2 separate regions of the Homo sapiens genome follow, and region 2 is linked to region 1. Evidence: fine-mapped expression QTL. A gene starts in region 1. The other region holds a variant in brackets. All regions are shown on one strand. Distances are from middle to middle.

Region 1 (5,385 bases):
CCTTATCTATCTGTGCTAAACTACTTGACAGTAAGTTGCATATATCAAAAGGTTTTTTTTTGTTGTTTTTTGTTAGAGTCTCACTCTGTCACCCAGGCTAGAGTGCAGTGGTATGATCTTGGCTCACTGCAACCTCCGCCTCCCAGGTTCAAGCGATTCTCCCACCTCAGCCTCCAGAGTAGCTAGGATTACAGGCGCACCACCACCCAGGCTGGTCTTGAACTCCTGACCTCAAGTGATATGCCCACCTCGGCCTGCCAAAGTGTTGGGATTACAGGTGTGAGCCACCACGCCCGGCCAAAAATTTTATACCTAATTGTTTAGTGTGTATCTCCTAATAACGGATACTCTCTCTTATAATCACAGTACAATTATAAAATTCAAGAAGTTTAACACTGAAACAGTATCTTATCTAATATGTAATCCATATTCAAATTTCAGTAGTTGTTCTGAAATATTCCTTTATAGCATGTTTTTTCAAGACCACATGTTGCCTTTAGTGCCATGCCTTTTTAAATCCCTTAAATCTAGAATGGTTCCTCAGCCTTTCTTTGACTTTCATGACACTGATGTTTTTTAAGGATACAGGTCAGTTGTTGAGTAGAATGTTTCTTAGTTTGCATCTTTCTGATGTTTCTAGATCATAATATGCATTTTTGACAGGAATACTACTTAAGAGATATTGTAACCTCAGTGCCTCACATCTGGAGGCACATCATGTCATTTTATCACATAATTGGTGACATTAACTTTGATCATTTGGTTAGGGTAGTGTCGGTCAGATTTCTCCACTGTAGAGGTACCCTTGTTAACCCTTTATCATGAATAAGAAATCCAAAGACTGTGCAAATATCTTGTTCCCCAGCCAAATTTTATTCAATGATTTTAACATCTATTGATAATTGTCTGAATCCATTATTACTGTAATGGCTGCCAAATGATTTGCTAATTGTCATTTCTTCTAACATATATTAGTTGGCATTCCACCGTCATTTCACTTCTCCCCTCTTTATTTTTCTGTTTAAAAGTAAGTATGCTCTACGATTCTTTTAAAAAATTCAATGTGTTAGAATCAATTTCTATATTTATTTATTTATTTATTTATTTACTGAGACAGAGTCTCGCTCTGTCGCCCAGGCTGGAGTGCAGTGGCACGATCTCGGCTCACTGCAACCTCTGCTTCCCTGGTTCAAGCAATTCTCCCTGCCTCAGCCTCCCGAGTAGCTGGGATTATAGGCGCCCACTACCACGCCCGGCTAATTTTTGCATTTTTAGTAGAGATGGGGTTTCACACAGGCTAGTCTTGAACTCCTGACCTCAGGTGATCCACCCGCCTCAGCCTCCCAAAGTGCTGGGATTACAGGCGTAAGCCACTAAGCCCGGCCCATTATTTATTCCTGATACTCAAACTGTCTCAGATTTGGTAAGGGGGGAGCACCTTCGAGCCATCTGCTTTCTTTTGACATATCTTCCTTGACATAGCCAAGAAATCTCCTTGCTTTAAGGAGCAGGATCTTTCAAGGGCATTTTATACTTTCCCTGTCTCTGCCCTCGAATGAGCCATCTCGCCACGGAGTCTGGCTCCTTTAGGTGGAGAATGGTATTTAGAAACCAAGATATAAAGGCATATGATACATCTCAAAATAGTGAGGTGTCACTGTCCCTGTTTCCTTGAGTCACATTTGGAAGCGTGGTGTGATTTATAATCCTACCTCGACTATTGCCTGTGTGACCTAGGCAATTCCCTTTATTCCTTGAGGTCTTCTTCGTCCTTTGGGGAAAAAAATTGGATTAGAGAAATATTTCTAAACTTTTTCAGAGTCACCAACGCGTTTGGGAATCTGACAGAAGCTACGGGTCCATCTCCCCAGAGACATGCTCACATAAGCAAAAACTGGCCTGTGTTTTAGGGGGTTCCAAACTCTGAAGCTCACATGAGGCTCCAAATCTCTGGATTAAGTGATCTCCAAGATCTCTTCAGCGCTGACATTGACATTCTGTGAGTCTATAAGCGACTGCACTGCTGTCAGAATGACTCCTCGGAGACATCAAAACGTGGAGGGTTTTATTATATATAGCAACGAGAAGAGAAAAGGACACAAAGAAAGGAGCCTGTGAGCAACGCATTGCTCAGCCACAGTTCTTTGCCGGTGCCAAATTTAGGACGCGCTGTACTTGTAGGTGAGAGGTTTTGGCGGGAAGGACCCCGGGTGGGCGGAGAACGCCGGGGCGGGGAAGGAGATCGCAGGCCGCATCCAGGTCTCTGCACCCCTCCGCACGGTCCGCCAGGGCTCGCTCTTGCCCTTCGCCTGGAAGGCCGAGGAACGGAGCGGGCCGAGCAGCGACCCCGCCCCTGGCAGCGGTGAGGCGGAGGGGCGAGGGGAGGGCGTCTGAGCCCGGAAGGAGCGCGCCGGCCAGGCTCGCGCCCCTCCCCGTGCGCCGTCCCCCACTCTCCAGCAGCCGACGTCGGCGGTGCTTCGGTCGCCATGGTGACCAATCCAGGCTCGGGCCCGCCCCCGCCCCCCTGCCCCGGCCCCCTGACGTCGGCGCACGTCAGCGGCGGCGCGCGCCTGGCTGGGCCCTGGGGAGCGGGAGGGAAGGAGCGAAGGAGCGAAGGAGCAAGCGGAGCGGCCGTCGCCCAAGCCAAGCCGCGCTGCCAACCCTCCCGCCCGCCCGCGCTCCTGTCCGCCGTGTCTAGCAGCGGGGCCCAGCATGGTCATGGCGGATGGCCCGAGGCACTTGCAGCGCGGGCCGGTCCGGGTGGGGTTCTACGACATCGAGGGCACGCTGGGCAAGGGCAACTTCGCTGTGGTGAAGCTGGGGCGGCACCGGATCACCAAGACGGAGGTGCGGCCCGGGGCTCGGCGGGAGCGTCCGAGGCGAGGGTTCGGGAGAGGAGCTGCTTACCGAGAGGGGCGGCCGCAGTGGTGGGACCGGGGAGACCCGAGAGGCCGCCTCACTGGCGGAGGCGAGCGGGCCTGGGACTGTGAGGACCCAGGAGGTGCAGGGGGTCGGTGAGCAGCGAAGGGATCGGGCCCGGGCACCCGGACCCGAGTGTCGTCCGACTGGAAACGCAACCAGCCGGGGCTTTGCTTTCCCCTACGCCACCCCCGGTGGCCACCCGGAATTTCGCCCAGAGCCCCCCACCCGGGCCGTGACCTGGTCTGTGGCCTCCGCTCCGGAGCCCAAGTTCCGCGTCTTCCCTGCTTTCGGCTGGGGGTGGGGTGGGAGGGGAAGTCTCGGTGTTCCCAGGCTGCGCCGTGAGAGACGTCGCCGGCCCGAGGAGGGGACCGCCTGCGCTTGGGCTCCGCGGATGGGGGATCGTGCGGCCCCCGTGACCCCGGCGCCCCTCCCCTGCCCGACGAGGAAGGGCCCCATGGCTGGGAATACCCCCACGGCCACTGTCCATCTCCTCTCCTTCCTTTTGGCCCAGGGTGTCTCTGATTTGGTGTCTGGCTAGCTTGATCTCTTGCCTGGGGCATTTCCATTTAATGCCCCAGACAATAGAACTGGTTAAAATGGTCATCTCTGCATTTGCACGGTGGGTGGATTGGTCTTCTACTTGTCTAGGGTTGTCACTGTACCAGGTGTGCATTCTGGCTGTAATACGCATTCTTTAAACCATATCAGATTCTGCCTCTACTCATAAAGCCCTCAACTGCTTCCTGACGGTGAATCCTGCACCCTCTTCATTGCACATTCTAATGCACCGCACATACTCTCTCACAAGTCTCTGTTCTTACCTAACCCGCCCCCCTTCCTTCCACTGCCTCAAGCTGCTCTCCTCAGGGTCTCTATTTTAAGACGTGCAAATTAAATACCTTAGAAGAACGGTAGAAACAAAACCATTCTTTAGAATAAAACCTAGTGGTTTTGACGTACTCTACTCTGCCTTATTGTAGTTCCTCCTGGAGTTTCATCCTTTTCCTGTTTGTTTGCCCTCCAGTTTTGGTCCTATTCTGCTTTTTCCCTTGTTAGTACGAATGTACTGGAGTTTGAGTGTAGAATAAAGTAGGACTTCTTTTCAGAATGACTTATGTAAGGCGAAGGGCACTTGCAAACGTGAGTGATTTTTGGAGTTGCAGTTGTACTTAGAAGTTTTGCTTAATCCCGTTTCCAAAAGGAAGGGGTATATGTCATTCTGTCTTCTTTACTTTTTGCCTTCCCCTGCTGGTCCTGAACCAGTCCAAATCTGACTTATCTTTTAGAATCAGGACCAAGGTCAGATATTTTCTTCTCACAGATTTACCAGTTAGCAATTTAGATTGTTTGTAATGATAATGATAACTTGACTATAGTGATATTGTTAAATCTTAATCTGATCCCAGCATTTTTTAAAATGAAGAAATTGGTTCCATTCCTCTGAAGAGCCATGGCCTATGCCATGCCATTTCCCTTTAAGTTACATAAAAGAAGGCATTTTAAATGCATGTTTTATGAGTCCTTGCTTAATGACTTTCTAAAAACAAACAAATTGTGAGTTATAGAGAGGTTCTACAAAACTTTTGAACTGTAGTATATCGTGTGGTTGAATTCCAAATCCATCAGTTCTTAATATTTTTTTCTCATCAGCTCTTACTGGGATTAATAGCAAGATTTAATTAAGTCATCTATTATTTATCAGGTCAAATTTAGTTAATACAGTAAGAGCTGCTTAAGTGGAGTGATTGACACTTTGAGGTTGACAATTCAAATGGTGTCCGTTTTAAACTAATATATCTTAAAGAGCTAGGGGGCACTATGGAGTAATACCGTGGTTTGGCTATCAGAGTGAGATCAATGCATTCATTTGTAATTGGAACAAGCACCGGTCAGATCGTGAAAGAGGACTTAGATCCTAAATCGTGTGTGTAGTATATATGTGTAAAATGATTTACGTTAAAAGCTAAATGTTTAGTCCGCAGAACCCATTTCCCTGTGCTTTTCTAAAGAAGCTGTTATTAACATATAAAAAGAAATAGTGTGAATTTGAGATGGGTGAGGGTATCTGTGGTAATTTGGTGGGTGTGATTGGAGATATTAAGGTAGAGAGGGATAAGTGAAATGTCAAAGCAATCTTTGAACAGAAAAGTTCTCTGGATCTCTAGGTTGTAAAGTTGCTCTGAATTTTTTTTTTTTTTTTTTGAGACGGAGCCTCGCTCTTGTTGCCCAGGCTGGCTGGAGTGCAGTGGTGCGATCTCGGCTCACTGCAACCTCTGCCTCCTGGGTTCGAGCGATTCTCCTGCCTCACCCTCCCAAGTAGCTGGGATTACAGGCGCTCACCACCATGCCCGGCTAATTTGTGTGTTTTTAGTAGAGACGGGGTTTCACAGTGTTGGCCAGGCTGGTTTCGAACTCCTGACCTCAAGTGATCCACACGCCTTGGCCCCACAAAGTGCTGGGATT
Region 2 (5,385 bases), 21 kb after region 1:
TCTAGCTTTCACCTAAAATATCTGTTTATTTTTACTGTGTGGAACCAGAGCACTGTAGGTATCTAAATCTTTTTTGTTCTTAAAGTCCAAAATTGTTTTTTAAGCAGCTTTATTGAAGAATAATTCATATGTAGTAAATTACACGTATTTAATGCGTACAATTTAATGTTTTGATACACGTTTGTGAAACAGTCACCACAGTCAAAATATCCATCACTTCCAGAAGTTTCTTTGTGCCCTCTTTGTAACTCTTTTGCCCCATCTGACACCCAAAAAACCACTGACCTGTTTTTTGTCATTATGGATCAGTTTGTATCTTTTGGAGTTTTATATAAATGGAATTATACAGGATATACTCAAATGTAATCATACAGGATATATTCTTTTTTTGGTCTAGCTTCTTTCCTTTACTATAATTATTTTGGGATTCATCCCATTTTATTGTATATATCAACATATAATTTCTTTTTATTGCAAGTAGTATTATATTATATGAATATACCCCAGTTTGCTTATTCATTCATCTATCTATTGATAGACATTTGGGTTGGTTTCAGTTTTTGGCTATTATACATAAGTTACTATGTACATTCGTATACAAGTCTACACAGTCTACCTTCAGGTAATACTTACCACTTCGCATATAATATAAGAACCTTGGCTGGGCACAGTGGCTCACACCTGTAATCCCAGCACTTTTAGGAGGTCAAGGTGGGTGGATCACCTGAGGTCAGGAGTTCAAGACCAGCCTGGCCAACATGGTGAAACCCCTCCCTACTAAAAATACAAAAATTAGCTAGGTGTGGTAGTGCATGCCTGTAATCCCAGCTACTAGGCAGGCTGAGGCAGGAGAGTCACTTGAACTCGGAGGCGGAGGCTGCAGTGAGCCACGACCGCACCACTGTACTTTAGCCTGGGCAACAGAGTGAGATTTCATCTCAATTAAAAAAAAAAAACCTTACATCAGTGTACTTCTCTTTTGCCCCTCCTGGCCTTTATGTTCTTGTTGTCATATTTTACTTAAACGTATTTTATAAAACATAATACAGTGCTATTTTTCTTTAAACAATTATCTTTTAAAGAGATTTCCACATTTTTTGAAAATTATCTATCAGTGTAGCTACCTTTTTCTTTAAACAATTATCTTTTCAAGAGATTTCCATATTTTTTGAAAATTGCATCTATTTATCAATGCAGCTACCATTTCTGCATTCATATGTATGTATATATTTTTATCTAATGTCATTTTTCTTTTGTCTGAAGGATTTTCTTTTCTTTTTTTTTTTTTTTTTTTTTTTTTTGAGGCAGAGTCTTGCTCTGTCGCCCAGGCTGGAGTGCAGTGGCACGATCTCAGCTCACTGCAAGCTCCGCCTCCCAGGTTCACGCCATTCTCCTGCCTCAGCCTCCCAAATAACTGGTCCTACAGGCACCCACCACCACACCCGGCTAATTTTTTGTATTTTAGTAGAGACGGGGTTTCACCGTGTTAGCCAGGATGGTCTCGATCACCTGACATCGTGATCCGCCCGCCTCAGCCTCCCAAAGTGCTGGGATTACAGGCGTGAGCCACCGCACCCGGCGTCTGAAGGATTTTCTTTAGTGTTTCTTGTAGCACAGATCTGCTGGTGATGAAATATTTCAGCTTTTATATGTCTAAAGTAGTCTTTATTTTTGTCTTTGTTTTTGAAAGATATTTGTACTAGGTATAGAATTCTAAATGGACTTTTTTTCTTTCAGTACTTTAAATATGTTGCTTCACTGTCTTCCCATTTGCACTGTTTCTGACAAAAAAACCACTGTTATCTTTTTCTTTATTCCTGTGTATATAATGTGCCTTTTTTCTCTGGCTGCTTTTAAGGCTTTCTATTTACCACTGGTTTCAACAATTTCATTATGATGAGCCTTTGTGTGGTTTTCTTCATGATTCTTATGTTTGGTGTTCATTGAGCTTTTTGGATCTGTGACTATACTCTTTTCATCAAATTTGGATATTTTTCAGCCATTATTTTCTAACTAATTTTTCTCTTCCACCCCCTCTCTTCTCCTTCAGATATTCCAGTCAAATGTATATTAAACTGTTTGAAATTGCCCCACAGCTCACTGATGCTCTTTTCCATTTTTAAAAAATTCCTTTTTTTCTATTTCATGTTGAGTAGTTGCTATTTCTGTCTTTAAATTCACGAATCTTTTCTTCTGCCATTAATCCCATCCAGTGTATTTGTCATCTCAGACATTGTAGTATTCTTTTCTATAAACTTGACTAGGACTGTTTTTTAATGCCTTCCATGTCTTTACTGATCTTTCTGAACATCTAGAATCCAGTTATGATAATTTTTAATGTCCATGTCTGCTGATTTCCAGCATCTCTGTCAGTTCTAGGTTGGTTTTGATTGGTTGATGTTTCTCCTCAGTTTTGGTTACATTTTCCTATTTCATTACATGTCTGGTAGTCTTTGATTGGATGCTAGACATTGCCAATTTTACCTTGAGCACCACATATTTTTGTGTTACTTTAGGTTTTCTTGAACTTTGTTCTGGGATGCAGTTAAGCCTACTTGGAAACAGTTTGATCCATTTGGGTCTTGCCTTCATAATTGAAACAGTGCTCAGTCTGGGTCTAGTTACTTCCCACTTCTGAGTACTCTACTCAATGCCCCATGAATGCTGAGGTTTTTTGGCCTGACAAGTAGGAACAGGCACCATTCCTGGCTTTGTGTAAGCACCAGGCAGTGTTCTCTCTCAGCCTCTCAGATGGTTTTTTCTCTGGCCTCTGGTGGTTTTCCCTCACACGTGAGCCAATCAGCACTCTCCTGAGTGCTCAAGGGACGGATCCCTCTGCAGACCTTTGGACTTCTTTCTGTGTGTAGCTCACTCTTATCTGGGACTCTCAGCATTGTCTACTCAACTCAAAGACATTGCTGGGCCACACCTGGGTTTCCCCTCCCTGTGCTGTGGCGTAGAGATTCTCTCAAGGCATTAGTTGGAACATTCATGGTCTCGCCTCATTTGTCACCTGTTGCTCAGGGTTCACTTTCCTTTGCCTGATGTCCAGTGTCTTATAAACCATTCTCTCATGTATTTTGTATTTTTGTTGTTGAAGATGGGAAGGTTGTTTCAGGCTGGAGGACAAATCTATCTTAGCCAAAAGCAGAATTATTTAGTCCTTTCAAATGTGTTATTAATTTAAGGTATTTTAAAGAGAAAGAACCATATGCACTTCTATAGTTTTGAAAAATACACTATTTGCAGT[A/T]GGATTCTAAATAAATAGTTCTGACTAAACTCATTGTATTTCAGAAAAGTTGTCTGTTTCCCTCTTTTGCTTAATTTTTTCTTTTATATGCTACTACTTAATAAGCTTATTTTAATTCTTAAAATATTTGTTTTAGCTAGCAGCATCTTGACTGATGCTATAATAGGCTGTTATGGGCTTTGAAGCTAAGCAAATCTGATTTACAATGCCGGCTATACCATATTAATTGTTAACATTACTTTGGGCAGGTTTCTTTCCTTTTCTTCCCTTTTTCCTCTTTATTCATTTTATTTTTCTTGCCTTTCTTTCCTATTTCTTACATTCACTTATTCATTCATTTATTCAGTCTTTCAAGAAATCCTTATTGAAAACCAATTACTTGTCACACACTGTTATGTGGTAAGAAAACTGCAATGAAGAAAATAGACAAAAATCTCTACTCTTTTACATTCTAGTTTGGGAGAGAGAAACAAAATAGCTGAATTATGTAGTAGATTAGATAGTGATGAGTGCTATGTAAATAATAAAGCAAGGCTGGTTGGTTGGGAGGCATGGGAGTTGATTGCAAAATTAAATAGAGTGGTCAGAGGCTGGTTGGTTGGGAGGCATGGGAGTTGATTGCAACATTAAATAGAGTGGTCAGAGAAGGCCTCGCTGGCATTTGAGCACAGACTTTAAAGCACAGTCATGTCGATATGGTAGAACAGAGATTACCCAGGGAGAGGGAAGAATAAATGCAAATCCCTGAGGCAGCAGTGTGCTTGGTGTGTCCAAGGGGTAACAGGGAGGCCAGTATGGCTCAAGAGGAGCAAGCAAGAGAGAAGAGCAAGGAGGAAGAACAGTAGAAGAGGAGGTCAGAGGGTAAATGAGAGGCAGGAGTAGGGCAGATTTGGGGGCATTGTGTAGGCCATTAGAAGGATTTTGACTCTTACATGAATAAAATTAGGGAACCATTTTCGGCTGGATTTCAGCACAGAAGTGACTGCATCTAATGTATCATTTTAAAAGCATCACTCTGGCTGCTGTGTTGAGAATGGGAAAGGGTGGAGACAGGGAAACCAGGTAGGAAGCTGTTGGAGTAGTTCCAGTGAGGGGTGTTGACAGCCCAGACCGGGGAGTAGCAGTACAGGTAGTCCTAAGTGGTCAAACTCAGAATATATTTTGAAGTACAATCAGTAGGACTTCTCGACAGGTGGAGACTACCTAAGTAATAGGTATAATTATGGAAGAGGCCAAGATCTGATCCCTGAGGCATTTAAACATTAAAAGATTTAGAAAAGAGGAGAAACTAGCAGAAGAGACAGAGGAGGAAGAAAACCAAGAGAATGTGGTATCCTAGAAACCAAGTGACCAAAGTATTCTCAGAAGGATCAAGTGAACATCTGTGACAAATGATGCCGATAGATCAAAAATGATGAGGAATGACAGTTGACCATTGTATACTGCAGTTTGGTAAGAGCAGTTTTGGTGGAGTGACTGGGCCAAAAGCTAGATTGAAGGGGCTTACAGAGCAAATGAGAGAAGAAAAATGGAGAGAGCAAAATAGACAACCCTTTCAAGGAGTTCTGCTGCAAAAAGGGAAAAAAGAAATGAGGTAGTAGGTAGAGGCAATGAGTCAAGAGAAGGATTTTTAAGCCTTTGCCCATTGGAACATTTTTAAAGCTTTGGACTGTAGTTTTACAAGTAAAGTAGAAATAGCTGTTACATGTTAGGCATCATTTCTATGAAAATAGGATAGTCTAAATTGTTCTTTCTTGCTAAGATCTTTGAAACAAATTTGGATTACATTGTTTTATACACATTGAGACATAATTTGGGGATTTTTAAATGTATAAGGTTTATATTTAAAGTAAAATCTCTAGGGTAAATGGTCAATTGGAGTTCTGGAAAGAAGAATCTGATGTCCACAGAAAAGTTGGACAGTGAATGCTATTATCTTATTTTCCACTCTTGGGTACAGTTAATTTCTTGACCATTGAAGATAATGAGTAATAGAATTAATTTAAAAAGATCATGAAATCTTTGGATAGTCTTCACTAGTTTGGAAGGGAAGAAGCTGAATTTAAAGGAGATGTGGAGATCATTTAGTTCAATTTGTTTTTATTTGCCTTGACTTTGTCATACAGCTTGAAGCC

Evidence for each region. PIP is the estimated chance that this variant, and not a neighbour inherited with it, causes the effect.
Region 2: its variant is the best candidate, but not a certain one, in a credible set for the expression of SIK2 in whole blood (INTERVAL, PIP 0.72).

What each region holds. Positions count from the first base shown.
Region 1 is chr11:111,599,852-111,605,236 of GRCh38, forward strand. SIK2 (salt inducible kinase 2) reads left to right here and starts at 2,598. Exons shown (of 15, transcript NM_015191.3): 1 at 2,598-2,847. The coding sequence starts at 2,713. RefSeq lists an enhancer at 1,984-2,123 and silencers at 2,214-2,653, 3,204-3,363.
Region 2 is chr11:111,620,973-111,626,357 of GRCh38, forward strand. All of the region lies in intron 3 of SIK2 (salt inducible kinase 2), which reads left to right. Among named protein-coding and RNA genes, the nearest start is that of SIK2, 21 kb to the left of the region's middle. The variant A/T (reference allele first, on the strand shown) is at 3,251.